Regions from separate parts of the Homo sapiens genome. Here region 2 is linked to region 1. The links come from fine-mapping of genetic effects on gene expression. A gene starts in region 1. The other region holds a variant in brackets. All regions are shown on one strand. Distances are from middle to middle.

What was found.
Region 2: its variant is fine-mapped to the expression of WNT11 in whole blood (INTERVAL, PIP above 0.99). The same link has a PIP of 0.9 or more in adrenal gland, blood mononuclear cells, lung and spleen.

The regions. Positions count from the first base shown.
Region 1 is chr11:76,203,426-76,218,884 of GRCh38, forward strand. WNT11 (Wnt family member 11) reads right to left here and starts at 3,077. Exons shown (of 5, transcript NM_004626.3): 1 at 2,900-3,077. The coding sequence starts at 2,982. LINC02761 (long intergenic non-protein coding RNA 2761) reads right to left here and starts at 12,665. Exons shown (of 3, transcript XR_007062785.1): 1 at 12,562-12,665; 2 at 11,800-11,867; 3 at 7,531-7,824. It overlaps LOC112268079 (a long non-coding RNA gene), which reads left to right and starts at 6,402. Exons shown (of 2, transcript XR_002957259.1): 1 at 6,402-6,494; 2 at 6,840-8,107. RefSeq lists silencers at 2,990-3,229, 4,210-4,429, 7,082-7,251 and enhancers at 3,534-4,201, 5,536-6,202, 5,821-5,870, 6,203-6,869.
Region 2 is chr11:76,174,264-76,189,722 of GRCh38, forward strand. It overlaps WNT11 (Wnt family member 11), which reads right to left. Exons shown (of 5, transcript NM_004626.3): 5 at 12,062-12,976. The coding sequence ends at 12,802. Among named protein-coding and RNA genes, the nearest start is that of WNT11, 25 kb to the right of the region's middle. RefSeq lists enhancers at 1,504-2,245, 2,246-2,988, 10,075-10,856, 10,857-11,637, 12,419-13,198 and 1 more and a silencer at 10,514-10,703. The variant T/C (reference allele first, on the strand shown) is at 12,067.

The DNA.
Region 1 (15,459 bases):
CCTGGGCCTTTCCTCTCACCCCACCGCTTCCGTGGTTCACAGGAGAGTGGGACTCCCCTCAAACCCTCCCCCTACCCAGGAAAGCCAAGAAGGGGGTGGACAGCCCAGACCTGGGACCCCGAATACTTGAGGGGCTGGGAGTCTTCTGGTGCCTGGCCTGGGTGGAGGTAAGGTAGGGAAGGATCCCCAGGTTATTTCTGGGCAGGTGCCTCTATGGGCAGCCAGGTTCTGATCCCCTCTCCCCAGCCCCCATCCCACCAGCTCAGCCTGCGTCCCAGGCACCCACCAGGTGAGCATTCCAGGCCACTGGGCCATGTTGGCTTTCAGTTCCTGTGCCAAGTGCCCCTTTCATCTCCAGCTCACTCTCCAAAGCCCAGGCCAGCGGAGGCTCCTGGGTGAGTCCCCGGCTTTCCAGCCTCACTGAACACTTCCCTGCTCCCAGCTGTGCTGGGGCTCCCTGTGCCCAACAGTCCACAGAGCTAGGCAGCTTAACTCAAATCCTGCCTCTACTACCTCTGAGCTGTGACACCCTGCTAGGTAGAGTCCCCCATCTCTGTGTGCCCCAGTCTCTGTTTCCTCTTCTGTGCAACGGGGGTAATAGCAGCACCCACCTCACAGGGTGGTTGGGATATTTAAATGGAACAATATACATAAGGCACTTAGAACGGCACCTAGCACAAAGTGAGGCCATGTGTGTGTAGACATATATGTACATATACATAGATATATGCACGTGGCCTACACACGTGTATCTATATATACACATGCATACACAGATCGTTGTTATTCTTAAACTCCACCCCTTTTCCCACCTCCCCCTCTATCTTAAACTCTAGCAAGACTTTAATCCCCTATTGCTAGACTATCAGTTTCTCATAGGAGTGCAGTATGATCTAACTTACATGACCCAAGCTCTCGGAGCAGCGTCTGGGGCACTTAGGAGTAGGCTCTTGTGGTGCCTGGTTTCTCCAGGTCTCCCCGCATGCGCTGTTCGGCCTCCAGGCTTCTGCTCGTGCTGTGCCTCCCGCCTAGGACGCCTGCTTTGCACTCCGTCTCTGACCATCCAAATCCTCCCTGTCCTTCCAATCCTGGCCTATGCATCTCCCTTAGATAGAACTGATCACTCCTCCTCTGGGCTGCCATGCTCCCTCTGCTAGGACACAGACCATAGTCCACTTTGTATTTCTATATGTCCATCTCCCCCAAGAGCCTGGGGGCTTATTTAAGGCACACAATGAGTTGTACCCATTTCTGTGGCAGCCTGACTTTGCAGTGGGGACAGAGGACATGGACGTCAGGTTTAGCCAGCCGTCCATCCCACCACAGGCCAGCGTGGGGGCTTGCGTGCATCATGCCCTTTGCAGGGTCTCGGTGTTCCCACTGTGGAGCAGGGATGATGGCAGTGACCCCACAGGACTCTTATGGGCGGCAAATGACACCCAAGCCCACTGCAAGGCCTCTGACGCTCCTTCAGCCAATCCTCTCCTTCCCTGGACCTTAGTATCCTTATCTGTAAAATGGTGGCGGTGGATGAGAGAGCTTGGACTCGCTGATCGGAGGTCCCTGCCAGCTGGAACAGTGCTGGGTACCCCATTGCAAAAGGAAGGTGGCTGGTTTCTCACAGAACTCCTCAGGGACAGCTGGGAAAAGCTAGTGCCCAGGGCTGGGAGATTGCTGAGACCAGGCTTCTTGTAAACAAGAAAGGCAGGAAGACGGGGTTCCCTCCTCGAATCGTCAATTAATCAATAACTTGGCCTGAGAAGGGGCAGGGCCAGTGACCTCCAGACTGTTTGCTGGCGGCGCAGCCACTATCACCCTGTCTTCCAACTAATTCACAAACCCTTTGCAGCGCCCTCCCCAGCCCCCACAACCTGCCCCCTGCTGTCTTATCTGCAGGCTCCCTGCCCTGGCCCCAGATTCCAGACCCTTGTCCTGTCCTGGACTTTCCCTCTCAGGGAGCCCCTCTGCCCACAGCGTCCTCTCCATTGCCCGAACCAGCCAACTCCCAGCAGCGCTTCAGTCACCAGAGGCACAGCCTCGGAAAAGCTTCCCGGTGTCTCACATCTGTGTCCCCACCAGGTGGGCTTCCTTCCTCTAGGCCTCCAGATTCCCGCTCTGGTTTCTCCTCGGGCACTTGGACACTTGTGGAGTTATTTACAGCCTGGGCTTATCTCTCTCAACTTAGAGCGCAGCTCCTCCGGGAAGGGGCTGGTGTTTACTCCTCTCTTCACCACCCCCAGCCCCCTGAGCAGGCACTCCCTTCAGCTCGGCACCAAGCCTCTCTCTCCCTCCTACCCCTGCGTGAATAATTTCTATCTAAAGGAATGCCCTGCACATGTGCACAGTGGCATCTGACAGCTTCTGAGGTCCTTTCAGGAGCCTCTTCTCATCTGATTTGAGGGAGGTGGGGAGTCTCACCCTCCCGTGACAGAGGAGGACAAGGAGGCCCCAAGAAGTAGAGTGACACTTTCCCAAGGTCGCCCAGGTGGAGGGGTCAGGAGTGTCTCAGCGGAACTCCCGCTAGGGTCAAGGAGACTGACGGACAAGGACCGCTCCTGGGCTGGCCGCTCTGGATTGCGCCCCCTGAACAGAATGTCTTTTTCCATCTGCCCCTGCGGAGGTGGCCAGAAACTCCGTGGCCCTTGCGCCACCGTCAGCTGCACAGGACCAGGCGCTTCCATTGTGGTCCACGCCCGTCTCACTCCCTTTTCGCAAGCCTGCGGGAGGCAGGGACATTTTACAGAGGAGGAAACAGAGGCTGAGGGATGACTTGCCCACGACCGCCAAGCCAGCTTAGGCTCCCGGGTCTTGGTGCGCTCGCCCCATCCAGGGGACCCCAAAACGCCCTCCGCCGCCCCAGTCCCTGGCCTGTGCGCGTGGACGCGGGGTCCCTACTCACAGCCACTTGATGCCATAGCACACGCCGGTCTGGAGCGCCAGGGCGAAGAGCAGCGCCTCGCAGACCTGCGGCCGCGCCCTCATCGTCGCGCGGCGGGCGCGCCCGGGGTCACACCCAGGAGGAGCCGCGCCGAAGTCCTCCGCCTGCACGGCCGCCGCTGGTCCTGCACGCCGCCTGCAGCCGGGGAGAGCGGAGGCGGCGGGTTAAGGCGGCGCGCGGGCGGGGGAGGCGTTTTATTCAAATTACAAAGGAGGGGTCGGGGCCCGGGGAGGCCGAGCGCGGCGGGCGTCCCCTCCCGCTCCGCCCGGCCGGGGGACGCGTCCCGCGCCTGGCTCGAATTAGGCGCGGCCGAAGGCGTGTCTCCCAGCGTGGCCCCGGGCCCCAACGCGCCTTCGAGCCCCTCTGGCCGGGGCAGCCGGAAGGAGGGACAGGAGGCGGCAGAACCGGAGACCCAGGAGAGACCGGGCAGACACAGCGAGAGGGAGAAGGACGCTCAGAGGACAAGGCTGAGAGCCACGGAGACAGAGGGGGAAACCCGGACAGACGCAACCTGGGACGGAAAGGAGAGGAATGAGGAATCAGGAGTCCAGGCGAGGCAGCAGAGTCGAGGACCCGGAGCTGGGGCTTATCCCTGCAATATTGAGCATTAGTTAATAGGGCCTCGGCAATTCTCCTTCCCAAACGTGTTTCAGTTTACCTCCTCAGTAAGCTGGGGCAATTCGGGCACAATTCCGCTTTTATAAAGAACGTTCCCTGGCCGGGCAGGGTGGCTCACGCCTGTAATCCCAGCACTTTGGGAGGTCGAGGCGGGCGGGTCACCTGAGGTCAGGAGCTCGAGACCAGCCTGCCCAACATGGCAAAACCCCGTCTCTACTACGAATACAAAAAATTAGCCGGGCGTGGTGGCGGGCGCCTGTAATCCCAGCTACTCGGGAGGCTGAGGCAGGAGAACCGCTTGAACCCGGGAGGCGGAGGTTGCAGCGAGCGGAGATTGCGCCACTGCACTCTAGCCTGGGCGACAAGAGCGAAACTCCGTCTCAAACAAACAGACAAACAAAAAAAGTTCCCTAACACGATCGCATCTGCTCCTCCCAGCACCCCGTGAGATAGGCACTATCGCTGCCTCATCTCACAGATGAGGAAACTGAGGCACAGAGGTGGGGTTCAGCTAGGGAGCGGCAAGCCGGGTGTCCGGCGAAATCAGGAAATGGGGCTTGCTCGGGGCCCTGCTTTCTCGGTGTGGGAAGGGGAGGATGGGAAACGGGATGGTAGGGCTCTTTGTACAGTGAGGATTCCGAGTCTCCAAGTCCGTCTTTAGCCGCTCCACTTTGGAGGGTGGGAGTGGAAGCATGCGGGCTGGGACTGGGCAGCCCCGCCTTAGCGAAGCGGGGAAGCTCGCGGGGCTGGCGCGGTGTTGCCTCTGGCCTCCAGGCGGCGCCCTCGGGCCGCGGAGGAGAGGCTGCCCCGCCCGCCCGCAGCCCGCGGAGCAGCTATCTCCGCTTTTTTTCTCCTTCACTTCATTCTCACCTCATTAACTCCCTTCCCAGCTTCTCCCAAATTTACCAACACCTGGCGTTCGCCCGGAGTCAGACACAGCCCCAGCCCCTCTCCCCTCGGGAGGAGCAGAGACAAAGGGATTCCTTTCTAAGGGTTTGGGGAGTTGGAAAAGGAGGCGCCCACGGTAGTGGGGGCGCTGGAGCAGAAAAGGGACGTTCTTATCTGGCTCTGTGAGCTTGGGCAAGCCCTCAGCCACCCCAGCCTCGGTGTCCCCTTCCATAAGAACGAGGAATGGGGCTTCGCCGTGCGTCCCCCGAGGACCCCGTCTCCCTGCAGCCTGCGGGGCTCAGCGCCCCTCTGCTATTTGCACCGCGACGCCACCTGCGTGGCGCGTTCCTGCGCGTGGGTAGTCAGCACGCAGAGATGGGAAGCCCCACTGTTTTCTGGAGCCTGTCGGCAAAACCCACAGGAAGGCGAGGAGAAGCCTGGATCGTACAGTTTTTTTCCTCCGCAGAGCCCCGCAGCTAGCGCCCAGCACAGGGGCGCCTGCGACAAACATGCCGTCAAGGCTGGGGGTCTCAGAGGGGTTCTCGGTGTAACCCAGTCCCGTCCTCCCACCCAGCCTGTATCCAAATCCTTTGTCTTCCTGGTCCTGCAAGTTTCTTGCACTTCTCAGAACGAGAAAAATATCCGCTGGATATGGAGGGGGGAATCAAAACTCCAGTCACCGTCTTCCCCTCTCCCAAAGTGCGCCGCCCCCCGAAGGCACCCGGCATTCCTGGGTGGGGAGGGGGCGGGGGCTGCAAGAGGACGGAGGCGCGCGGACTCACAGCGGGGGATCTGTGTCCAGCCTGGTCTCCCAGGGAGAGGAGGAGCCCCCTAGGTCGCACAGCGGACGGGGACCCAGGCCTCCAGCCCCGCCCAGCTCTTTCGGTGCAGCCCCGGCTGTCCCAAGGCTCTCCCTCCGCCGCCCAAGCTCGTCGCGCGGGGAGGCAGCGCCTGGCCCGAGCCTCTGGGTCCTGACGGACTGTTCCTGTCCCTTGTACGAGCGCCCGGGACAGCCGCGCAGGCCACGGGGTCACCTTCCGCCTGAGCTCGCGGGTCAGGGTGCACGCGCCTCCTGAAGCCCCCAGCCCGCCAGGGGGCGCTAAGCCGGGGCTCGAGGAGGGGGGAATCGCGGCTGCCTCCTGCGTCGCGGGCTGGGGTCAAGTCCTCTTCCTGGGCCCCCGCTTCTCCGTCTGGGGATGGGACGACGTGTCGAGGGAGTGCCCCCTGTGTCCTGGTCGTTCTATAGGACACTTGCCGTGGGCCGCCCTGACCTGCCCGGCCCCTTGCTTGGGGCCGGGCGCGTAGTGGGCCGCGCCAGGCGTAGCACCTTTGGAGAGCGAGCGGTCACCTCCTCGAAGTTGGTCCGAGCTACCCTGCCTGCAGCGGGCCCGGGAGGCGGCCGCCTGGGGCTGTGCACAGGGAGAACACCACGAGCGCAGCGCCGCAGCCCAGCGCCGCCAACAGATGGTCATAGGCCCGGTCTGTGGAGGACTCTGGAAAGCCGGCCGCTGGGACCAGGCCACGCCGGCCCGGCGAGGACTTGCGGGGTCCCCCCTACCCCGACGCCCCACGGGCACCGTGCACCGGGGCCGATTGTCCGCGCGGCGCGCAAGGTCGGCACGGGCGGGTCCCGAAGCCTCCCGCCACGCAGCTCACGGAGCTGACCCCGCCAACCAGGGACGCCGAGCGACGGCTTCAAGGTTACCTGCGGGGCGGGGCGAGGCCGGGCCTGCCACCCGGCTTTGACCCCAGCCGTGAGGCTTTCGAGAGACGTCTGCTTGGCTGCGCACGCGGCGCCGGGTCACCCGGGAGACGGGTTGTTTTGGAAGTGGGAAGGGTGGGTGGGAGCACTCGAGATCCCTCCTGCTAACCCCCTGGAGCCGGACCCTGCACGCCCAGGGCCTTGAGGGACACCGAGGCACTTCAGCCCCGGGGGTGGGAGGCGTGGAGCTCGTGCGCGAGCTCAGCCAGATGTTCCGGGCGGTTGCAGATGTGCCTCGGGGCCGGGGACAGGACTTTCCTCCTCCCTAGCCCCCAGCCTGGAGCTCAGGTCAGTAAACAAACTCGGTTCTCCCCCTCCCCCCGCCGCCCCTGGGACCCGTTCTCAAAGCCAGGCTTCTGCCCCCATCCCCAATTTACTAGGCGCTGCCGCATTTCTTTGCCTTTTGCCACCCTTTCCCCCCGCCCACCACACACACCCTCTGTCGCGGGATCCAAGTCCCCCACCCCCGGGGGTGGCTCGGGCATGACCTCATCCGCCGAACGACTGGGAAGGAGGGGGTCGCCTGGGGTGCGGGGGCAGAAGAGGGGGGCCGGGCCGGGAAAGTTCGAGGAGGGCCGCAGGAACTGCACAACCCACCACCGTCCCGCGTGCCCCTAAACCCCGCGTCCCCAGGCTCCCGAGGCTTCGCTCCGCAAAGGGGAACTCTTCGGAGTGCTGCGGGGGAAAGGTATGGAGGAGCGCTTGGTTTGCTTACCCGGGAGTGGGTGCCCAAGGGGGTCGTGGCGGGTGCGAGAAGCGTCGTCCCCCTCGGACTCGGGCGCCCCCAGCCCTGGCGGGTCCCCGCTGAGCGGCTGCCCGCTGCCCGCGACCACTGCTCACCTCCCGGGGCGCTCGCCAGGCGCGCCCTGCGTGCCCGGGTGCCCCGGCCTGCCCAGGGAGCGGCGAGTGCGGTTTCCAGCGGGCCCGTGCGCACTCCGGCTGGGCGAGCGGCGAAGGCGCCCTCTTCGTGAAGCGGCGCGAGAAGGACGCCGGGGATCCTGGCAAGCTGCGGCCGGCTCAGGACCCGCGCGGAGTCAGGCGCGGACTCCGGCTGCTCTCTGCTGCGCTCAGCTCCCGTGGCCTGTGCTCGCCGCTCGCCCGAGCTCTCCTCCTCGCCTGGCGCGATCTCCGGCGCGAGCCTCCCAAACTGCTTTATAAGGCGGGCGGCCGCTTTGATCCGCCCACGTCAGCGCGTCGCAACCCCACCGGGTGGCCCCGGCCGCGCGCGGGGGGCGGGGGCGGGGTCCCCGCGGACGCCACTGACCGGCGGCGCCCGCCGCTCCAGAGAACTTAGTACTCTGTCGAGTTACAAAGGGGGACTCGCTCACTACAGCTGGTGTTTACTAAGCGTGCGTGCTGCGTGCCTGCGACACGCGTGGGGCCCGGGTAAGGCCCATCTCGAATCGTCGCAGCAACCAGGCAAGGAGCCTCAACTGGCAGGGGGAAGTCAGACTTGGGTCTCAGTCTGGAGCCGGGGCATCCTTAGGTGTTGGTCGCGCAGCGTGGTTACTGTAGACGTCTGAGGTCCCGAAACCTGCCTTCGTGTCCTAGTCCTGGTCCTTCGGGGGGCCATCTCTTCTGGCCTCTGGTTCCAGTTGTGGAAAAGGAATCAACGATCCTGCAAGAGAAAGAGACACGAGGACTCCGCGCTACAAAGCCCGCTGTAAACCTTAGGTGTGGAGCTGGGCGGCGTCCCAGCCGTTGGGGTGACTGCTGGGGAGTGTTCTGGACACAGGGGAGGGGGAGCAGAGGAGGACTGGGTTTCCTAAGTTAAAGGAGCCTAGAGAGGCACCTCCTGCGTCGAGTAGCCCAGGCGTGTGGTGCTTCTGGACCCCCTCACTTGGCCTCCCCTGAGCAGACCAGCTGCTTACCCCACAACATGACTGCGATTTCTAACTGCCCATCGGGTGCTGTGGGTTCATCCATGTCTCCCCCTCCTTCTAGGGGCCTCAATCCCAGGACGTCCTCAAGGATAACTGGTTCATTAGCAGAAAGGGAAATGGAGACTTAGTGAGGACACGGAGCCTGTCTCAGGTCCCCCAAAATGCCTGACATTCTTTTCCCCATTCTTTGCAGCTGCAGATGAAGTGGCACTCCTAGGCTGCCCCACACCCAGCTACAGGTACCTCCACATACAACACAAACATCTGGGCCCACAGTGCCCATAGCAGCCTCCCAGCCATACCAGTACTCCCACACAGCCAGTCCTCACACACAGGCTGGGGCATATCACCCCGCATATGGTTACAAACACACTCGGGAGATACCAGGACATATCATCTGCCCTCACACACAGTAGCACAGAGGTGTGAAATGGCCGTACACACATCATGAAGGGGAGGCTGCACACAGACCACCTGCGCGCACACAGTTCAGGTGCAAACATGCGTGAGCTTCCATGCACACACAGCTCCCAAGTGTACAATGCCTAACATGTACTTCTGCACACAATCACAGGGATATCCTTTGGAACATACGCTGGGACACCCCCATCTCTCATGCCAGAACACTGGGGCAATCTGATCAAAAAAGCAGTGGAAAGACAGTGGGCTTGGGGCATTGAGGAAGGGAAGGCGGGGGCTATTCCACCTAAGAGGCAGAGAGCAAAGGCCTCCGGGGGCCCAAGAATGTCTTCAGCTCCCCTGCCCCAGGCCCCCCGGCCACTTCAGTCAGAGCCATTCCAGGTGGTCTCTGTCTGATTGGGATGCGCACCCTCTGCCCGTTTAAGAGGCTCAGTCAGTTGCCTCCAAACATTTGCAGCAGTCCTGCCAGAAATCCCCTCTGGCTCCCGGCTAGAGTAGAAATGGAAGAATTTGGAGTCATGTAAACTTGGATTCCAATACAGATTTTGCCCAATTTTATTTTTAGCTGTGTAATCTTGAGCAAGTTGCTTAAATTCCCCAAGACTTAGTTTTCTCACCCACAAAATGGGAATAATACAATCCCATGGAATCCTCTACTTCTCCAAGATCAGGATTAGTATTCCCATTTCACAGATGTGGAAGCTGAGGCTCAAAAGGGAGCTGATATATGAACCCAGATCTCTGGCTCAGACTCCACTATGGCTGGTGGCTCCCAGTGAACACATGGGGGAAGGATAGTGACTTTCCATTGTCTTGTGGGGAGTTGAAGGAAACCAGCAGAACATCCCATACTCCTGAAGCTCAGCCCTGCCCCCTCCTGCCACCTGCCAGCTACTCAGCTGTGTCCTGTGGATCAGGACCCAGGCATCAGCTAGGGCTGGAAACCTGCCTGGGGAGGGGAGTAGGGGGAAGGGCTATGAGAAAGTGTTGCCAAAAGCTTGCATTGAAAATCAAGGGAGACTTGGGGTGAGGGTCTGCCCCTCCCTGCACCCAAGTCTCTCCATTTGCATAATAGGCAGTAATTGAGAAGAATTTTGTTTTCATCTTTAGAACCAACTGACCTACCCCCTTGCCGTCCCTTCTACTTCCCTCTGTCCAGTCCTCCTCAAGGGCCACTGTGTATCTGGCTTGTGCTGGCCACCTGGGCTGCAGGCTCCTCTTCAGAGGGGATGAGGCCCCATGCCCCTGGCTGCTGCTGCTGTGGACGTGGATGTGAATATATCTTTCTTCTCAATCAGCCCAGGCGATTCTGGTGATCTGATCACCCAGACATGCTGGGGGCTTCCTGTCAGCTGGCTTCTCAGCCCCTGCCTGACTGCCATTGGCCAGGGGCACACCCCTTTCCCCCCACCCCCGTCCTGTACCCACCCTGCCCAGGGAGGCACCCAGGCTGAAAGGACATGGAGGTAAGGGCGGACAAAGTTCCGTTCGCCTTGCTGACCTTGAGGGAGCCCTCTGCCCACTTCAGCTTCCTTCCCTTGAGGCCAAAACCTTGGTGGAGATGGTGGGGGGCAGTCACCTGTTTGCAGGGGCACCAGATGGGGGTGCAGGAAAACTGGTTGCAGTCCTGAGCCCCGTCACTAGTTTGCTGTGTGATGGCAGGTAGTTTTTTTGCTTTGTCTGAGCCCCAGTCGCCCATCTATAAGTGAAGGGTTGAACCTCTAAGGGCCTTTTCAGCTCTAGAACCCACACATCTTGGGGCTCCTGACCCAAGAATGCTGTGTGACCACAACCCCAGATGTCCCCCCCAATGCCTTCTCTGTCTTCCCTAAGCCCACTACCCCTACTCAGACCTCAGCACTTTATCCCTCCCACAACAACAAAGGCTTTTCCAGAGAAAGCCAAAAGCAGCCAGTAAGGAGAAGGGTCAAGATCACGCACCCTGGGCCACGACTTTGTGGTGTGTGAAGGGGGGATGTGGTGGGGCACCGCTCAGCTCACCGCTATCGCTTCACCAAGGGACTCAAAAGAGAGTGACAGCTAGGTGTGGTGGCTCACGCCTGTAATCCCAGCACTTTGAGAGGACGAGGTGGGTGGATCACTTGAGGTCAGGAGTTCAAGACCAGCCTGGCCAACATGGCGAAACCCCATCTCTACTAAAAATACAAAAATTAGCCAGGTGTGGTGGCAGGCACCTGTAATCCCAGCTGCTTGGGAGGCTGAAGCAGGAGAATCGCTTGAACCTGGGTAGCAGAGGTTGCAGTGAGCCAAGATGGTACCACTGCACTCTAGTCTGGGTGACAGAGCAAGACTCATCTCAAAAAAAAAAAAAAAAAAAAAGCGACAGTGTTTTGCTCCACTTTTGCTGTGTACAGTCTCTGTGGCATCATCCACAAGCACACGCCTCTCCCTCCCATGTCTGCGGGTTGGCTGGGGGCAGCTGGCATGGGCTGGACTCATGGGTCCCAGGCTCCTGGTTGGGTTTGGACCTGCTCCATAGATGACTCTTTCTAGCCTGGAACCAGCACTCCCTGGGCCATGCTCTTCTCACCACCAAACCAGCCTGTGCCATAGGACGAGCCATGAATGTGAATGAAGGAAGACCACAGGTACTCTCCCTCTCCCGACCCCAGGCCACCTGGCAGATGCTGGCTTCCCAGAACCATTTTTGTTTTGTTTTGTTTTGTTTTGAGACAGAGTTTCGCTCTTGTTGCCCAGGCTGGAGTGCAATGGTGCAGTCTCAGCTCACTGCAACCTCCACCTTTTGGGTTCAAGCGATTCTCATGCTTCAGCCTTCCAAGTAGCTGGGACTACAGGTGCCCACCACCACACCCGGCTAATTTTTGTATTTTTAGTAGAGACAGGGGTTTCACCATGTTGGCCAGGCTGGTCTCAAACTCCTGACCTCAGGTGATCCACCCACCTTGACCTCTCAAAGTGCTGGGATTACAGGCATGAGGCACTGCACCGGCCAGAACCATTTTTTGAGATCCCTCATCCTGGTCCTGGACACATCTCGAGGGAGGGCAGGGCAGGGCAGAGGCCGTCATCACCATTTCCCATTTCTCATTGGTTACAATGAGACTAAAGCGTACTGCTTCCACCACCAGGGTGCTTTTAGAAAGGCCTTTCTGAGAAGACACATGAACAGGGGGTCTGAGCAGAGGAACCCAGCCCAGCTGTTTCTGGCATGCCCTGTGAGGCCAGATCTTCCAGGCAAGGGTGGGGTAAGGGGACAAAATAGCAGCAGGCCTGTCATCAGAGCACCTGGGCCTGGCTGTCAGACTCACCTCCTCCACTTACCCACCGAGGGACTCCGGGGAAGTCACTCAGCCTCTGGGATCCTTAGTTTCATCATCTGCAAAACAGAAAGCCACGAAACCACTCCTTCTCGATGTTATTGAGAAATAATGTTGTAAGAAGTCATATTGGTTGAACAAGCACCTACTGTGTGCTAGGCAGTTTCTGTGCCTATGCCTGAGACAGGCATTGCTCTGCAGATAAGCACACTGGGCCAGGTCTGTCAGGTAATTCATACAAGATCTCTCTGTCAGTGAGTGGGCCTGGCTGCAAACCCCGGGTCTGTGGGTTTCTGGAACCTCTGCCCACTGCCCAGGGTAGGGTATGTCTTCCTCCTCCCCTTCAGTTACCTCAGGGGAGGTATTGTTATTTTACAGGGCTCAGGGAGCAGGCCTGGGGGCACCACGGAGAGATGGGAGGTGTCTTTCCTGGGTGCACATAACAAAATGCCACCCGTCATGTCTACTGAGGGCGTCACATCTGAAAGCCTGCTTTCAACTCTCAGTTGTTTAATCATGGTGGTGGCTGCTCAGGAGACAATGTGTGTGTTTCTCAGGCCTCTTTCAGCTCCAGGAGAGAAGAAACCCAACCCCAACCAGCTTCAACACCAGAGAAACTGGTTCCTGCAGGAGAAACTGGGGTGGCTGGTGGCCCTACTGCACTCAGGAGGGCTCAGGGCTGGTGCTGGTCCCCTGGAGATGCTGTGCTGTCTCAAACTCACTTCTCCTTCTTCCTCCTCTCTTTGAACTCACCCGGGCCTCATTTCTCCCCATTGGGATGCAGCCACCAACAGCCCCAGTTAGAAATTCCAGTCAAATGAGACCTCTGTCTCCTTGGGCCTCTGAATCAGTCCCAGGGAAGGCGGCTGATTGGCCTTGTTTGAGTCACGCACTCTCCCTCTGATGGACATCTGTTATTGCCACGGGAAACTGGCTCTGGGCATGGCTGGGTGCAGTGCCTGTCACCAGAAGAGGAGGCATAGGAAGCAGTGGGCCACAGGGGCATTTGTGTCAGGATGGCAGTTTCTTTTATGGTTGGGCCTCTGCTTCTCTGATATGTGTACAAATCAGCGTCTCTGCACCTGGGAGAAGAGAGGCGGCATTGTCTGAGTTTCACCCCATCACACGCACACACAGGGCCAGAGACCTACCATGCTCAGTGCCCCGACTGTACACATAGAGAAACTGACGCCGAGAGAGGGGTCGCACATCACTCGGTTAGTGGTGCAGGAGACAGATATCAGGTCTCCTGACATCCAGGCATAAGCCATGCAGTTATTTGTCACTGGTTCTGAAGCCTTTCTGAGCAGGCCAGTGAGGCAGCTTTTTAGTAGCACCAATTCCTCCCATCCCAGAACATAAAGACTCTTTGGAATGTGACTCCATGCAAAAGCGAAGGCTCTGTCCCCACCCCTCCATCTGGGCTGACCTCATGGCTTGCTTGACTAGTAGATGTAGCCTGTGTTCTGCTGCCCAGGACTCGGGGCCTTGCAGCTTCTGCCTTCACCCTGTTGGGGCCCAGCCCAGCTGCAAGGTCAGAAGCCCAGGCTGGGGCAGAGAGAGGCCTTGCTGTATCGGCTGGCCCATCAGTCAAATGCAGCCACGCGAGCGAGCCCAACAAGGTCAGCAGAGCTGCTGGGTCAGCCCACAGAAGCACGAGAGTCAATTATGGCTTTAAACTACTAAATCTTGACATGGTTTGTTATGTAGCAATAGAGACAAGAAGCAGCCAGGCTTAAAGAGTGAAAAAGCTAAATATATACACAATTATTTGTCTAATGTCATTTCAGAATCTTAGAATCTTACCGTTGGGCCACCCCCTCTCATAACCCCAAGGTGCTGGCCACCAGAGGCCCTGTAATGTCTCCACTGATCTGGGGCAGCATGTGGCCAGTGATAGCTCTGTCATGTGCTGCTATGTCCCCAGTACTGCACCAGGGCTGGACAAACAGTAATTGCTCCAAAGTTGCCAGGGATTGGAGCTCACTCCCTCCAGGATGGTGTCTTCCATTATGAATGGCTCTGTCTTGGAGAAGATCCTCCTCCGTCTAGAGCAGAGACCTCTGATTCCCCCAGGGGTCCTGGCTGTCTTCCTGGGGTCCCCTCTTATATAGGATAGCCTTAGGCACATCACGATGGTCCCTAGCATTACAAAGCAGCACAACCTCACTTAATAACAAGTATTTTTATGTACATGGTGTCCCCGGACACAGATATAACCCTAAGGGAAGTGCTTCCACCTGGCCCTAAAACAAGCATGGGCTCTGGATCACACAGTTTGGGGTTGCAACTCGAAAGCAACTTCTGTTTGGCCTTGGAAGAGACACTTCATGTCTCTGAGCCTCAGTTTTCTCACCTGAAAAATAGGAGGAGTGAAATTTATTGCCTGGGTTGCTGTGGGGCTTAAAGGAGAGATGATGTATGTAAAATGCTCAGCACGTAATCGGTCCTTGATAAAGGTTAGTTCCTTTTCTGCCAGGTACGTAAACAGTTCCAGATGGAGAGCTCATCTGTACTTAGCATTCATGTCTATATAAATAATGTGCAGGTGGGAGAGGAATTGTCAGGTGGCCGGGGAAGGGGGAGGGCGTTCCCAGCAGGGGAACAGTGTAAGCAAAGACAAGAAGAAGTTTGCTTTCAGAGAAGGGTAAGTGGGTGGTTCGGTGCTGCTGGCATGAAGAGCAACAGGAGGGAGAATAACGGGAGAGGAAGCCAGGCCCATGCCACGGAGGGCCTTCAGTGCTGGGCTAGGGAGCTTGGGCTTTGCCAAGAGAGACATGGAGGAGGTCTGAAGAGGGAAGGGGTAAGGTCAGGTTTGGGATTCAAGTCTGGGGCAGGTCTGGGGTTGGATGGGGAGGTGAGGGGAGATGGAGCTCCTGGAAGCCTATGAGGGGAAAGTGGGGTAGCAGCAGGAATGACTTGGGCTAGTGGAGGGGAGGGACAGCCTGGCCACTAATGCAGCAGCTGAGCCACCTGCATGGACACATCTGTTGTGGGAAGCAGGGCCCTTAGTCCTCTGGTCTAGCACCTCTGCTCTGCATCTTCAGTGCCAAGCCCTGTTGGGAAGAGCACTTTTTCTGTCCTTTTCAATCCAGGAACAGACTGTGAGAGGGAGAAGACCTGGGCTAGATCTGTAGCCAGAAGGATGCGGGGTAGACCAGAGGGGAACTGACTTACCTGTCTGTTTGGTGGGGATTCAGAGAAGTCCCTCTCAAGGTCCGTTTGCTCATTTTATTAACCATCCCAGACCTCAAGTTGAGCTTTCCAGTTTTCTAAGCCCTGCCACAGTTATGGGCAGGCTCCTTTGAGACTTGCCACTGGCTTGAGAGGGAGGCTGGGCAGAGGTGATTAGCTCTGTTGTTAAGATGGGGAGACCTAGGCCCAGAGAGGGCAAGTGACTTACCCAAGACCACACAGCAAGTGCATAGCAGAGCTACCCTGGAACCCAGTTCTCCTGCCTCCCACTAACATCCTAGTTCCTTTCCATGGCACTGAGGGACAGGCAGGACGTTCTCACTTACCTGCTCTGGGTGAAGAGTGAGGAGAGCCAGAGAGAGGTTGACAGCCATCAGCAGACAACACTTAACCCAAACTGACAATTTAATTGTGAAAATGTGGACGAGGTATAGTTATGTGCAAGGAAATCCAGAC
Region 2 (15,459 bases), 29 kb before region 1:
CTGAGGACCGTCTATCTTGAAGGCTGAGGAAAGTGGTAGCCATGGTGGTGTGCCCAGGGCTGAAGGAGGGGAAGTGAGGGGATGGGGTGATGAACAAGCACCCTTGGTCTGGGCGAAGGGAATCTGTGCAGGAGACTCCTGGAGCCATCCACTCATCCATCCATCCACCCATTCCTCCATTCATCCGTCCATCTGTCAGGCTGTCCATCTGTCCATCCATCCATCTAACCATCCGTCCATCCATTCATCCATCCATCCATCCATCCATCCATCCATCCATCCATCCATCCATCTATCCAACCATTCATCTATCCATCCATTCATCCACCCATCCATACATGGAAGCATTAATTTTTCCCTGCGTCAGTGTGTTCATCCACCTACCCATCCATGTTTATCCATGCATTATTCATCCAGTAGTTCAGCCACACATACCTCAAGTGATTTGGGAAAATTAGGCACGAACCCTCCAGCCCAGCAGTTCATCTTCAAGACCAGAAAGGATGACAGAGGTCATGTGGTCAGGCAGGTGACCACTGAAATCCCAGAGGAAATGAGCCCCTTCAAGAATCTCCCTGCCCCCCCTGGCTTGGCCCCTCCCGCCTGTGGACCATCTGGATGGCCACACCGCAGGTGAGAGGTTGGAGGAGAGTGGGACCTCACAGGGAGCGATCAGGGTCAGGCCTGGCCGTGTGCACAGACCAGGGGCAGCTGGGAAGAGCAGGGTGGGCCTGGGTCCACTAAGGAGGGGCTCTGGGGAGTCTCCCAGGGAACCCGCAGTTCTTCCAGGCAAGAGCCTGGCTCCAGTGGGAGCAGCTGTGAGGGTGGAGTCCCAGGGAAGGACCCTCAAGCCTGGGTGCAGGAGGGGTTCCTAGAGCCCTCAGATCACACCGGGGGTTGGGGGGTGTTGAACCTCTTTGCAGACAGAGCAGAAAGGAGCAACTGGAACACCGGTAATGTTGGGGAGAACGGGCCCCTTGGCTGGGAGGGCATCTGCTGTCTCCAGCACCCTGGCACAGAGCGGATCACAGTCTGGGGTGCTGGTGGAGAAGACAGACGGCCCTGCTGTCACTTCACGTCTGGTGTCTCATCTGCCCCTCACCCACAAGGTGTGCTTGGCTATGGCCATGTGAGAGGAGAGGAGACAGAGGTGCAGAGGGGCTCAGGAGTGCGCCTGTTTCCCAGGATCCCCCCCAGGTCGACCCGGCCCCTGTGAGCACCAGATGCTGGTGAGGAGCTGGCTCCCCTCCTCCCAGCCAGCCCAGTGAGGGGTGACTTGGACCCCCCGCAGATTCAGCTGTTACCCCAGCCTCATTTTCCACCCCATAAAATGGACCATGGGGCTGGGGGTGTAGGGCACACCTGGAGCTAGGCTTGATCCTGCAGGCAGTGGGGAGCCACAGAGGGTGTCGGGCAGGAGGGTGGTGAGGCCGGGGCCTGTGCTCCAGCAGTGCCGCTCAGTCTCTAGCCTGCTCCCCAGAGTTTCCAATTCGGTAGGTCTGGGGTGGGGCCTGAGGGACTTAAGCAGGTGCTGGGGTCACCATTCCTGGGGTGGTGGTGGGAGAGGCAAGTGGACAGAACGGGAGCCCTGGAGTGAAGGGCACTGTGACCTTGACCCAGGGGCCCCTGAGCTGCAGCAAGGGGCTGCCTCTGCCCCCTCCGGCCACATGGAGAAACAGAAGCCCACGGGGCAGGAAGGCCCACAGTGAAGCAGGGGTGGGAGGACCCAGAGATGATCTAAACCAGCTGGGCTCAGTTTAGAAGATGTAGCCCCTTGTCTCTGCAGCCAGACTCTCTTGTTCTTTCCATCTCAGCATTTACTGAGGCCTTCCCTGGGCCAGCCCTTGTATGAAACTGAAACAAGCAGGACCACACAGGGTGACTAGAGCTGTCCCAGAGGGAGCCCAGGGTGCCGTGGGTACTAATTTGGGGCCTCTGCCTGGAGAAGTCAGGGAGGACTTGCCACAGACGGTGGTGAAGGATCATCGACGTTTCCAGGCTGCCCAGGGACAGGCAGGAGGGATGGAGACACGCAAGAAGACAGCCACGTGGGGAGTGTGGGCTACAGGGCGGTGGCTGGGAAGGAGTGCAGGGCGCTTGGGTGCAGAGAGGAGCAGGCTAGGAGGGGAGAGTCCAGAGCAGGTTGGTGGCCAGACCGGGGGGCTCCATGCCAGCCTGGAGCTAGGCTTGATCCTGCAGGTAGTGGGGAGCCACAGAGGGTGTCGGGCAGGAGGGTGGCGAGGCCGGGGCCTGTGCTCCAGCAGTGCCACTCAGTCTCCAGCCTGCTCCCCAGAGTTTCCAATTCGGTAGGTCTGGGGTGGGGCCTGAGGATTTGCATAATGCGGGGGCAGGGGGGAGACGCTAAAGCAGGTGGGGAACGATAGCACTTCCCATTCATGGAGATAGGAACCCAGAGGGGCTCAGGACTGGGGGATGAGGAGAGGAGGTTAAATCTGAGGCCCTCAGCAGGAATCAGATCCCTGTGGTGTCAAACTTCCGCCAGGTTTGAGACTGGAGAGATGTCTGGCTGTAGAGGAAAAGGCGAGGAACCTGGGATACAACTGGTCCCTGCCCCAACCCAGGAGGGGGCCCCTTGCAGGCCTGCGGCCGAGGATGGCTCCCTCCTCCAGGAACCCAAAGGCACCACCACCTCAAGCTGCCATTGCCTAGGGGGACCAAGATTGAGACCAGGACTCTGCAGTCAGACCTGGACCTGAGTCTAGTCGCCTACTGCTCTCTGTGACCCTGGGCAAGTCCCACCACCCCTCTGAGTCCTGGTTTCCCGTCCAAAATAGCTAAAACAGTACCTGCCTTACCGAGCTGTTATGAGGGTGGGGGATGGGAAAGTCCTGGGTTAACTGTACACCCCTGGACATGCACATGTTGCTATTATTGTTATTATTATTATTGGAAAAGGGAGCCTAGTGGGAAGATATGATGTCTCACCCCCAAGGAATTATAAATGGTGGAATTTCTGGCACCATAACAGGTTTGTGCAAAAAATCATTTGTGATGGGGGCCCTAGGACACTGGGGGGCTCATGGTCCTCTGTGATGTGGCTCCTGGCACAGGGCCTGAGGCAGGGCCACTGGGCCAAGATCTGAGCTTTGCTCCCTTCCACACAGACTAAATATTTGTGTTGCTCCTCCCCCAGCTTGCCAGGACCCAGGCCCCTCTCTGGTAGGGAGAGGGGAAGACCATGCTTCAGAGGGCAAAGCAGGCGAGGGTGGCGGGATTGATTACAACAGGCCCTGCTCGGCCCAGACCCCACAGCCCCCCAGCCCCTCGGAGGCCGGAGCACAGCCAGGGAATCTGCCTCTGACACACAGCGGGACTGGGGGCAGCCCTGCCCCTCTGGGCCTTAGTTTCCCCATCTGTAGAGTGGGGTTGAGGCCAGGAGAGTTGGAGAAGCTGACTTCCAAGGTCTTTCTGGTTCTCTCTCCAGTGACTGAGGCTTCCCTGAGCCTCCAGCCCTTAGTGAGCAGAGGCGAAGGGGACCTGTAAAATGGGACAATCCCTCTCGAGCTGAGAGGTGGGAGGACCCAGCAACGACAAGGATGGATGCCCTAGGGAGATGGGAGGCCTTGGAGTGGTGGCGTCAGGCTTACATGGAAGCACCCTCAAATGCCACTAATTCTCCCTCCTCCCCAACATAATACACACTGCGGCCATTTGTAAGCACCTGGTCTGTGCCTAGCATCATGGCAGGGGCTATCACAGGAGGCCAGGCCTCCAGCTCCCCAGGCAGTGGGGGTCCCATGGAAACAGCCTGATGGGACCAGCCACGAGGGTAGGCAGAGCAGTGCCTGAAGAGGAGCCCAGGTGCCAAATCCTGGCATCAGGATCTTCATGCTGATCATTTACAAGACCTCGACTCTGCCACAGGCCATCCCAAGCCCTTAACCTTACCTGCTTCTCTCAACATCCCAGAGAAGGGAGGACTGGCCTGGTCCCTATTTTAAAGATGAAAAAACAAAGGCACCGGTCACCCAGGGATTAAATGGTAGAGCTGGGCCTGGTCTGGCTCCGGAGTCACCCACAGTACCTGTTTCTTCAGTAGTAATGATGCCACGTCCTACTCACAGGATATGTGAGTGGCTATGCCAGCAGGAGCCGTGTGTGCCCTGTGCGTAGGGCCTCGGAAGTTCTCAGTAAGGGCTGGTTGTGTGCTTGTTACCACAGCAGGGGCTCAGCTGCAGGCCAAGGGCGAGGCTTCCATAATCCCAGGCAGGTGAGTCTGGGGCTGCTGCTGTGAATGTTTCTTAATCAAGGTGCCTTCCAGTAGTGCCCCTTTGCAAGCTCCTTCCAGAGATCAGCCGTCCTGCCTCCAGCAGCCAGGCCCTTGCAGGGAGCCAGGTCCCCAGGCAGAGGTGTGGGGCTGTGGCCTTTGCAACGCGTGCTGCAACCCTTCCATGGGACCAGGGCCTGGAGAGCTCTGAGTGAGACCCCCCAGTGCACCCTTGCACCAAGGGCAGCCCCCAGCACACAAGAGGTGCTCAGGAAACATGGATGTCGTGAGAGGGCAGGAAGGCCTTCAGCACAGGGCCAGGCATCTCTGCGGGCCTCTGAAGTCGGAACCACTGGGAGCCAGCACCCATCAGGAGCAGGCTTCTTGTCCCAGTTCCCTTGTCTGTAAGTCGGGGTTAGCCTGGGGAAAGATGGGGTCTGGGGGCCCACCACTCACCAGTGAGCAGCATCCTTCAAGAGGCACACATGTCCCACCTAGAGCCTGGACCTGAGCCCCAGCCTCGGGCCTGGGGGTCCACCAGCCCCTCTGGTATGGGCCCTTGCTGCCTTGGGCTTCTGCTGTGTCTGTGGACCAGGCCTGGGTCGGGTTTTTGGGGGACAGCAGGAACAGATGGTGTCCTCGCAGGCCCTGGTCCACCAGCATCTGCAGTCCCAGGACCACACGAGGTACGGGTAGGGTGCTGTAAGGGGCTGGGGGACTCGATGGTGGGGCCGGGCCCTCTCAGAGGCCCACAGTCTCCTGGGAGAAGGGCTGCAGGGCTGCAGGGCTTCGTCAGGAAGGGCAAAGCCTCCCTCTGCTCGCGCTCCATTCCGGCCTTCAGAGGAGCCCTGTGTGAGGGCAGGGCTGCGCTTCACCCCTGCAGAGCCCTCCTGTGCAGGTCCCCTGGGATCCCACAGAGCTGGGCTTTTCCAGAAACCGGAAGGCCCCTGCGAGTGTGTCTCCTGAAGAGCCCTTGCTCTCCTCACCCCGACCTTGGCCACACTGTCCTCTGCCTCGGTGTCCCCCTCCAGTCCAGCCAGGCACTGCTCTTCCTCCTTCTGTATCCAGCTGCAGCACCCATGGGGCCTTCCCTGGGAGGGCTACCCTGACTCTATCCCCTTGCCCCTGGCCCTGGGCCCCCAGCCCACTTTGCTCACCCCTCAATTACAGTCTCTTACCCAGACTCTTGGGGCTTTGGGGCCCTGAGGGCTGGAGCCATTTAGCCTCAGCTCTTACACCCCAGCATCTGCAGAGGCTGTCTCGGTGGAGGTTTGTTGACTGACTGTGTCACTGAATTATTCTTTAATCACAGTGGCTACCAGTGGATAACTCTTACTATCTATCTGCTGAGTGCTTGATGTGCATTACCTACTTTGAGCCTTACAACAAGACAAAGAGGTGGGTCCTGCCATTCATCCTGCTTCACAGATGAGCAAACAGGGACTCAGAAAGCTGAAGTAACTCACGGCCAGCAAGGGCAGAACCAGGAGCCACAGTCAGGCCTGTGCCTGTAACACATGGTCCTCCCCAGCCCCTCCCGCAGCAGAGTCATCTCTCCTTGGTGCTCTTGGATCAGAGGGTGCCCAGGTTACCTGTCCCTCACCCACAGCAGGTGTGTAGTCTAGGAGCTGGAGCTGGCTTACCTGTGTCCCCAGCCTGCAGCACAGGGCAGGGCATGGAGCCCAAGTTCAGGGGAGCTTTGGGGAAGGAATGGCAGGTTGTATAACAGGCACAACCCACCTAGCTCTGGCTGGGCCTGGTCAGCCAGGCAGGGTGCTGGAGACTTTACACACTTGACCTCTCCCGAGTGTCAGGACAAGCTGTGTTCACCCTCATTTTACAGCCAAGGAAAGGGAATTGGGGGTGCTGTGATGTGTTCAGGGTGACTCAGCTTGGAAGGGGCAGTGCAGGGTTAAAACCCTGTCTGTGTGGCTCTGACAGGCCGTGCTCCTGCCTGCTACCCAGGACAGCCTCCCGCAGAGTTCCTGCATTTCATGTGTGTTCTGGAGAGAGAGAGAGGGTGGGGTGGGTGGGTGTGGGGGTGTTGGCATGGGAGGTACGCTGTGTATGTGCAGGAGGTGGTGGGGTCTGTTTTTCTTTGCTCCTAAATGGATTTTACACCATGCCTGGGCTTTGGCCTACACAGGAAGTGTTGATCATCATTCCGGAGAATCTGGATCAGCCCCTGGTGCCGATGGAGTCTCTGTTTGCTGCGAGAGAAGCCCCCAGGGGCTTGCAGGTCCACCCAGCAAGACAGCAGGAGGGAAGGACAGCAACTGCCAGGAGGGAACAGCCTCCAAACCGACCCAGATGTCACCTGGAGCACGGAGCCCCATCACAGGCCTGCAGGAAGACCATCCAGGATGAAGAGCCAGGCCCCAGGAGCTGGCTTTGGATCAGAGGGTGCCCCGGTTACCCATCTCTCACCTGGGATGTCTAGGGAAAGGCCAGGGCTGAAGAGAGCCAGGGTCTGCCTGCAGTGGCCTCCTGCCTGCTGCTCCCACTCTGCCTTGGGTCAGATGGGACTGGAAGAGAGGGCAACCTCCGGGGGAGGGGACGTGGGGAGGCAAGGATGGTGTAGATGCAAGAAAAGAGAAATCTTGCACTTCAGGTGCAGAAAGCCATGGCAGACAGTTCTGGAGTCTTCAAGTACTAGGCATGATGGACTCGTAGTGTCTCGAGTCCAGTGTCCTGAGATCGCAGGGCCGTGGAATGGTTCGGAATGGAGGACCAGACTCTAGGAAAAATGGACTCTGGGAATCTTGAGTGTGAAGGAGGCTCCGAGGTAATGACATCTAACGGGCTATTGTCCCTGCAGCCCTCAGGCAGCCTCCTACTCCACCACCTTCTTGAGGACCGCATGCTTTTGTGGATGCGCAGACAGTGGAGACATAAAATAAATACTCCGATTTGAACGGCATCTGTGCCCAGGCGCACTGGAGGCTGGGCCTCTGGCAAGCTCTTGCCTTCACCTGCCAGCCTGAATGGGGGTGTCTGGGATGATTGTCCTGATCAGCCACGTCCTCCTCTTGCTCCTCCCCCATCACCCACCCCGGGCTCCCTGCCCCAGCGCTCCAGCCCCTCTGCTGGCGCCCAGCAGGTAAGACAATGTGGACCAAGGGGCCGGTAAGGAGACTGTCTTCAGCAGCCACAAGCCTGGGGAGCAGAGCGGATATTGATTTGGTATATGGGAGCAAAGGGACCATTAAACGTGCGGCTGTTAAATTGCTCTGCCTGGAGCCAGCCAGCTCTGCGGGCGGGCGGGTGGCCTGGCGGGCAGGCGGCGGTCAGACCAGTCGGCTGCTAGTGCCCTGTTGGGGGTGGTCTTGGATACCTGGCAGGACCCAAGGCAGCCTGGCTTGGATCCTTGCTGCCCTGGTGCCCACAGGCCCCTGAGCTCCAGCCATACCCACCTCTTGGCCTCCTCTGAGCATACTTTGCTGCCATGGCTGTTCTCACACAGACCCCTCCACATCACCTTCTTCTCCATCTCTTAAAATCCTGCCCCACTTTCCAGACCCAATGCAAATGGCACCTCTTCCATGAAATCTTCCTGATTTCCCACTCCTTACTCCCAGTACCCAGAAAGGAGTAGGCCTTCCCTCTCCAAATCCCCAAAGCCCCAGGGCTCTGCCTGTCTTCGGCCTCCTGTCTTCTCTGCTATAATAACTAAGAGTTGTGGGCCCACTGAAGAGGACACCTGAGCTTCATGTGCTCCCCCGTCCCTCGCGCCAACACACACACAGGTGAGGCCTGGGCGGCCAGGCACACAGGCGATGCTGAGCAGCTCACCTGAGGAGGGCAGGGCGGGAACGTGTTAGTTGAGCTGTGGCCTGATCCTGATGGGCAGCTCCTTCCTGGCACCTGCGCCTGGACTGCGCTTCCCAGGCCCTGCAACAGATGTCAGGAACTGCTCAGTCTTGAATTGTTCCCTGTTCCTCTCTTGCAATGCCCTCCAGCGGCTCCCAGTCAAAACCCCCACTCAGTCACAGACCACCTTCATCCCTGGGATGCATGTTGTGGAGGCTGAGACAAGCCCAACAGTTGGAGCCAAGCAGTCCGAGGTTTGAATCTCAGCTCCTCCACTAATTATTCTCTAACATTGGGCCAGTCACTTCCCTCTCTGAGCCTTAGTTTCCTCATCAATAAAACAGAGATACTGGGTCATATCCCTTAGATTGGGTGTAAGAATTGGACAAAACAACTGCCGAAGAGGCCCAGAGAGGGCCAGTGGTTGCCTAGAGTCACACAGCAAGAAGCTAGAAAAGATGCAGGATTCCTACCTCCTAGCCCTAAACTCCCCTTACCCCGTCCAGCCTCTCTGGGTCTGGGGTTCCGGACTGGAGACTGCATCATGCTGGGGCCTGGTTTGTGTAACCCAGTGGCTGGTCTCCACAGCCTCAGGAACCACAGACCAGTGGCTTGCTCAGGGCTGGGCTTGGGCCCCTTGGTTGTTCCTCTGGCCTGGCCTGGCCTCCTCACGGGGTCTTATCTGTCCACTCTCCCCTTTCCCACCAAACTAATCTCTCCCTCTTTTCAGGAGTTCCTGTTTCCTCTCTGCCGCCTTCTTGTCTCCCTCCTCAGACCCTGTCTCTCCCAGGTCTCCAGCCAGCCTCCCACACTTGGTTCAGAGCCGCCTCAGAGCGGCTGGTGCTGTCATCACTGGGGAGTCTCCATCTTTCGGGGGCTCTCCAAGCCTCACACAGCCCTGTCTGTGACTGCTGCCCCTTACACAGGAGGGAGATGGAGCAAGTCCTGGGAAGGGAAATCTGCTGGGGACAAGAATTCTGACACCCTCAGATCAGTATGCAGCCTTCAAAATCCTTTGGGTTGGCCATTGGCCTGGGGGCCTCTACAGGGCTGGCAAGGCAGTGGTTTGGGGTTTCTACTCCACAATTCCTGAGTACCAAGATCTCACGTTTCCAAATCTCTGAACACAATGAGATCCTGAGCTACCAGAGCTCCGAGGTCCTGGGAGCCTCCACACCCCTGTGATGCACCTGGCAGAGGCCCCAGCATCCACCTCCCCGGAGTGGGGCTCAGCCTGGTTGCATTCTTAGAGCCTTGACCTGGGGGTGAGGGGAAGCACCGGGACCAGCTCCCACTGCCCTTCGGTTGTCCAGCTCCTGGCCAGCCAGAAAGGTTAAGTGCTTTGTCACAGATGTGGGGACGGGCCAGTAGCCCGCTGAGTCAGGGACCCCCCCCCAGGGTCTCCTGTCCTGAGCTTGAGGACTCCCCTCCCAGCCCTCCAGCTCAGCCCAGGAAACGGTCTTCAGCTCTCCATGCAGCTCCCCCGAGCCTGCTGGGAGTGCGGACATGTGAGCAGGAACGCACCTGCGCTCAGAGCCCTGCTGTGCTGGGAGTTTTCCTGAGGTCTGGAGCGAGCCGCCTTTTCTTGCAGAGCCTCAGTTTCCTCCTCTGTCAATGGTAACAATACTCACTTCGGAGGGCTGCTGTGATGACTTGGGCCACTGTGTTTAGAAGGTCACACAGCAGGTGCACAATAAATGGTAGCAGTTATATCATGTGGCCACCCTTTCTGAGAGCCATTCTGGGTCCTTGGTCTGGTTTCCCCATTTACTTGTCCTGACAGAGGTCCAAAGGACACTCCCAAATCCAACATTTTGGAGGTATGTTTTATACCCAGCCCTGTTGTGCTGCCCCCCAGATCCCAGGGCCCATTGGTGCATATGGCTGGTCCCAGCCCATGAAAAGGCCCCAGACAGGTGGGGAAGACAGATGATATGACACAACATAGGCCTCCACAACACCTTGGTTCCATGAAACATTGCAGGGAGCACAGAGGCTGTGGAAACCCAGAGGAGGCCCCTGACCCAGGCTGAGGGTAGTTGGGGAGGGCTTCCTGGAGGAGGGAGCCATTTACCTGGCTTTTGCAGAAGAGGGCATTGGCTGGCAGCTTGAGAAGGAGGGTGATGGCTGCTTTAAATGTTCAGAGGGTTGTGGGGTGCCTGAAGAGGGGGAGATCCCTTCCACCTAGGGCACTGGGGAAGGTTTTGTGGAGAGGGCTGTGAGGGTTGTGTGGGATTCCAGCAGGGAAAACAGCACTCTTGGCGAGGGAGAACAGCAGATGCCCAGAGGGCAGGCAGGCTGAGCAGCTGGGAGTTGCAGGAAATGCTGTTGGAAGAATCGCCTGGGGGACAGGCCTTGTGTTCCAGGCTAGGGACTGGGGATTGGTTTTGTGGGCTAGGAGGTTGCTGAGAGCTATGAAGCAGGGAAGCCCTGGGCCTGGAGAGCGCACATTCCAGGGGCTCCTTCCAGGGAGGCTGGGGGTTTTCAACAGAGGGGCTGGCAGGGGCCCCACCCGGGAAGGCTCCACCTCCCCCCGTTCCCAGCCCCTTATCAGCTCTGTGACCACAGGAAGGCCCTTCCCATCTCTGAATTTCCTCATCTGCAAAACACACCAGAAGACTTATCTTGAGGTTCCTTGCAGCTGGTGACGCTGTGGCTCTGGCTGTCCGCACTGCAAGCTTTCAGGCAGGGCCTCGAGGATGGCCACAGAAGGCCCCCTTCTTCCCACTCAGGATGGGTCCAGCCCCTGAGGGGTCATCCATGCCATCCCACCCCCAAGGATGTGGCTTCACTTCTCCAAATCCTGTGCAAGGCCCCGCTCTGCCCCAGCCCCTCCAGGTGGTGTCTCAGTCCTCAGCCGGCTCGGGGAGGGAAGAGCACTGGTACTAAGTCCGAGTCTCTCTGGTGCATGCAGAGATTTGGATTATAACATCCTCTTACACCCCAGCCACAGCAAGATCCAGGTGATGAACCACTGCTTCTGTTTCGGGGCCACCTGCCCTGGCCAGGCACTGGGGATACCCCACTTACTCATCTCTTGGTTACTGGTGCTGCCTCCATGAGGGAGGTGACACGGAAGCTCAGAGGGACAGTGATGTGCCTGCGGTGATCCTGTTCCCCTTGGCACCCTGTCTTCACTTGGCAACAGCCAGGACCGCCGACCTCCCTCCTGCCTCCCTGGCTGTTCCTTCTGTCTCCTGTGTCTTCTCTGAGCTTCATCTCCCCAGCCTCCAAGGCAGGAGTGCCCCAGGCCTTGGTCCTCTTTACTCTTCTATCCCACACACTCCCTTAGCGATGACACCCAAATGTGGATCTCCAGCCCTGGCCGCTCCCCAGCACTCCAGACCCGGATATCTGCCCGGCCACTCAGTATTTCCACTAGGAGCGTAAACTGTATCACAATCCCCACGGGCCCAAATCTGAACCCCAGGCCTCTCCCCACCCCCATGTCGGCATTCGGCCCCTTCAGCCTTCCCAGTGCTCCAGCCAAAACCCCGGCAGTCATTCTTGGGCCTCCTTCCCCTTACACCCCACATGCAAAAAGAGAACAAATCCTGTTGGCTCCCCCTTCAAAACAGAACCAGAATCCAACCACTTCTCAACACGTCCAATGCTGCCAGCCTCCAGGCACGAGGCCTTTCCCAACCTTCAGCCTTCCTCCCCACCACTCCCATTTTACAAATGGGGAAACTGCAGCTGGCAGAGAGCCCTCCCCAGGGTCACGCAGAAAACCCACCAGGGCTAGCTAGAGCCTGGATCTGCACCACCTCCCCGAAGTCTGCATCCCAGCTGCCCAGGGAGTGTTTTCCCTTGAAGCCAGCTTAGCAGGCAGGCCTGACAACACGGCCAGGCTTTGAGCTGCGCCTGCGTGTGTGTCCCTGAGGAAAAAAGATGCTGCCAGCTGGGTTTATGTTTCAAGACGTCTGTCCTCGCCCTTGACCAAGAGCTCTTACAGGGAGATCAGGGCCAGGGCCTGGTGTGGGGGGAGCGCGGGGGGAGAAGGGACATCAATCGGAAGCCGCCTTGCC[T/C]GGAAACTGGAGAGCTCCCTCTGCCAGCCCCAGGGTCTGCCGAGTTCACTTGACGAGGCCGGGAACTGCAGGGGCGGGCTGGGGCTCACTCAGCATTTATTTCATACAGCTGCTTAAAAAGCTAGTTTTAAAATAGAGATCATTATATATATACATATATATTTATATATATAAAATATATAAAGAGGAATTGAGAAGTGCCACCCCAAAGAAAAAGCTATGTTTTATAAATATTTCTGTAGCTTCCACATCCCAAAGGAAGAAAAAGCAAAAAACAAAAGAAAACATTTACAACCCAAGCTAGTGATTCCATGTGGTGGGCCCAGCAGGCTCAGACCCCAGGGTGGGCCAGGGGGTCCCGCAGAACATTCTGAAGAAGGCGGGCAGACCCCTTCCCGGAGGCTGGTCTCTGTGGCCCTGAAAGGTCAAGTCTGTATCAGTCTCACCGATCCCAAGCCCCGCTCCTTACACCAGCCTGTGGGCACTCCAGAGCCTCAGGCTGCCAAGTTATTTTTAATCTTGTCGGTTTCCTTTGATGTCCTGCCCTCCTTCCAGGGTGGCCAGACCTTCTGTTCCTGGTGGCTTCCAAGTGAAGGCAAAGCACAAGCCGCCTCCCATGCCTGGCATCTGGAATTCACAAGCAGAGCTCCATGGAGTGTCTCCAGGCCCCTGGCCCCAGTTGCTGAGGGTCCTTGAGCAGAGTCCTCGCTCCTGCGTGGGGCGGAGGGCAGGGCCTCACTTGCAGACATAGCGCTCCACGGTACGCTCACACCTGCGGCAGGTGACGTAGCAGCACCAGTGGTACTTACAGTGGCACCGCTCGACCACGCGGTCTGTGTAGGGGTTGTAGCCACGCCCGCAGCACATAAGGTCGCAGCTGTCGCTTCCGTTGGATGTCTTGTTGCACTGCCTATTGTGGGGGCAGGAAGGAGGTCAGTGCATGCCTTGGTCACCACCCCACCAACACCCCATGACTCCCAGCCAGGCAGCCGGCAGCGTCTCCCATGGCCACCGACTCAGCCCTTCTTAGAAGCTGTCTTGATCTTTGGGGAATTTTAAATAATCCTCTTACCTAAAGGTACTTCTAACTTTTCCCTATATTTCTAATAAGGGGTTACCAAAATGATGGGGCTGTTTTCTTTTATTTTTTTGAGATGGGGTCTCACTCTGTTGCCCAGGCTGGAGTGCAGTGGTTGTGATCATGGCTCCCTGCAGCCTTGACCCCCGCCTTCCCCACCACCCAGGCCCCCGGCTCAAGTGCTCCTCCCACCCTGGCCTCCTGAGTAGCTGGGACTACAGGCACACACCACCATGTCCGGCTAATTTTTTATTTTTGTAGCGATGGAATCCCACTATATTGCTCAGGCTGGTCTTGAACTCCTAGGCTCAAGCAATCCTCCCACCTCAGCCTTCCAAAGTGCTAGGATTACAGGCATGAGCTGCTGTGCCCAGCCTTGTTTTGTTGTCTTGGAGATAGCTTTTTTCTATTTCTTCTACTTCTAAATACTGGAAGGACCCTCCAACCAATCTAATAAGCCTATCTTTATGTGTAACCTTTTACAGAGTCTCGCTCTGTTGCCCAGGCTGGAGTGCAGTGGTGCAATCTCAGCTCACTGCAACCTCTGCCTCCTGGGTTCAAGCGATTCTCTTGCCTCAGCCTCCCGAGTAGCTGGGATTACAGGCGTGTGCCACCACACACAGCCATATTTAATCTTTAATTAAATATTATGAGAGATGTCAAGATCATTTGATTTTTAGAATCCTAGGATAAATGCTGAAATACTCGAACCCCCACTGGGCATCAGACACGCTGCTCGTGGAGGAATAGGGGTCTGTTGGCCATGTGCCTCCTGTGGGTCAGGCTCTCCCTCCAGTGTCTTATCTTAGTGGAGGCCTGTAGGGCCCTTGGGTCAGTGGAATGATTACGTCCATTATGCAGATGAAAACAGGCTCAGCAAAGGGCAGAGGCTTAAACTTGGGGACTAAAACTAAGGCCCTGACTTGCTCTCCCTACCCTAAAGGGTGGGGCATGGGAGCCAGCAGGGGCTGCATTTCTTCCCAAATGTGGGATGCGAAGACATTGAAGGTCCCTATAAAATGCAAACATCCTTCCACTGCTCTCAGTTCTTCTGTCTAGTGACAAATCATCTGTTCAGACTGGTGGCTCCTCTAGCTGGGCTGAGGCTAGACAGGGAGTGTTTTCATGAGATGTAGTTGGGGACAGAGCAGCAGGGGGCTGGGGCACTGACAGGGACAAAGGGTCCCCACATGTGGGCCGAGGAATCCCAGAATGTCCAAGATGGGAAAGTCCTAGAGATGACCGAATGCAATCCTCATATTTACTGATGGGGAAACAGACACAGAAGGGAGAGGGGCCTTGCCCGTGGTGAGTACAAGGTCTGTGAGAGTTCAGCAGGGCCTCCTGGAAGAGGAAAGGCCATCTAGGCCATTCATGAAGGATAAGCAAGACTCCGCCGTGCAGAGGAGGGAAGGAGTGCTGGGGTAGAGGGAACAGCCTGGGCAAAGGCAGAAGACGAGGCCTGCCCTCAGAACAGTGAGAGCAGATGGAAGGGGAGGGCTGGAGGCCCGGAGGAGGCTGATCAGTGCTGGGGGAGAGGCCAGGCCTGAGCCGGAAGGGGCCATGGGCAGAAGGAGGGGAGCGCCTGGGGAGAGTCAGCCGGTGACCAGCAAGTGGGGGCTGCCAGCAGTTCCCAGAACACCTGCCCCAGAGCTGGACAGACCTGGGTTCAAGCCCCAGCTCTGCCACTTAGTGGCTGTGTGACTTAAGGCAGGTCACTGAACCTTTTTGGGCTTTGTTTAGCCACTTGGCATCCATGAGTTCCCCCTCAGCCTTCTCCTGAAGGCTCTGGCTGAGCACTCTACCCTGAAGGGTAGGAAGGAGGCAGAGTTCTTTTTTAAATTTCTGGATCCCTGACATGCATTGTCTGAAAACTTGGCCTCCAGTGTCAGATCCAGACAAGGCCCGGGTGCCTGGGACCAGGATTGGGGCCAGTGGGGCCATAGGCCCAGGGAAGGGCCGTTGGATGCCTGGCTCCCAGGGTACAGGGTGGCTCAGACTGTGGGTGGGGGTGGGTTTCAGAGGTGCAGGCCTCTGGAAGAAATATGACAAGAGGGCTAGGGTTTGGAATATTGTCTGCAGATTAGGCCTTGGTTTCCCCAGGTTAGATTTGAGGAGGCTGCAAGGCATCTTCCGCAGAGAGGGAGGCAGCCTCTAGAGATACCCCGCATGCACACGCCTTTCACAGTTCACCAGGCTCACTTACACCCAACCCCCAACCTCATCATCAATCTTAAATTTCCCCTCCTCTAGGAAGCCTTCCTTGATGTCCAGGCTGGATCAGGGACCCTCTGGGCTCCCTTCACACCAGGCTT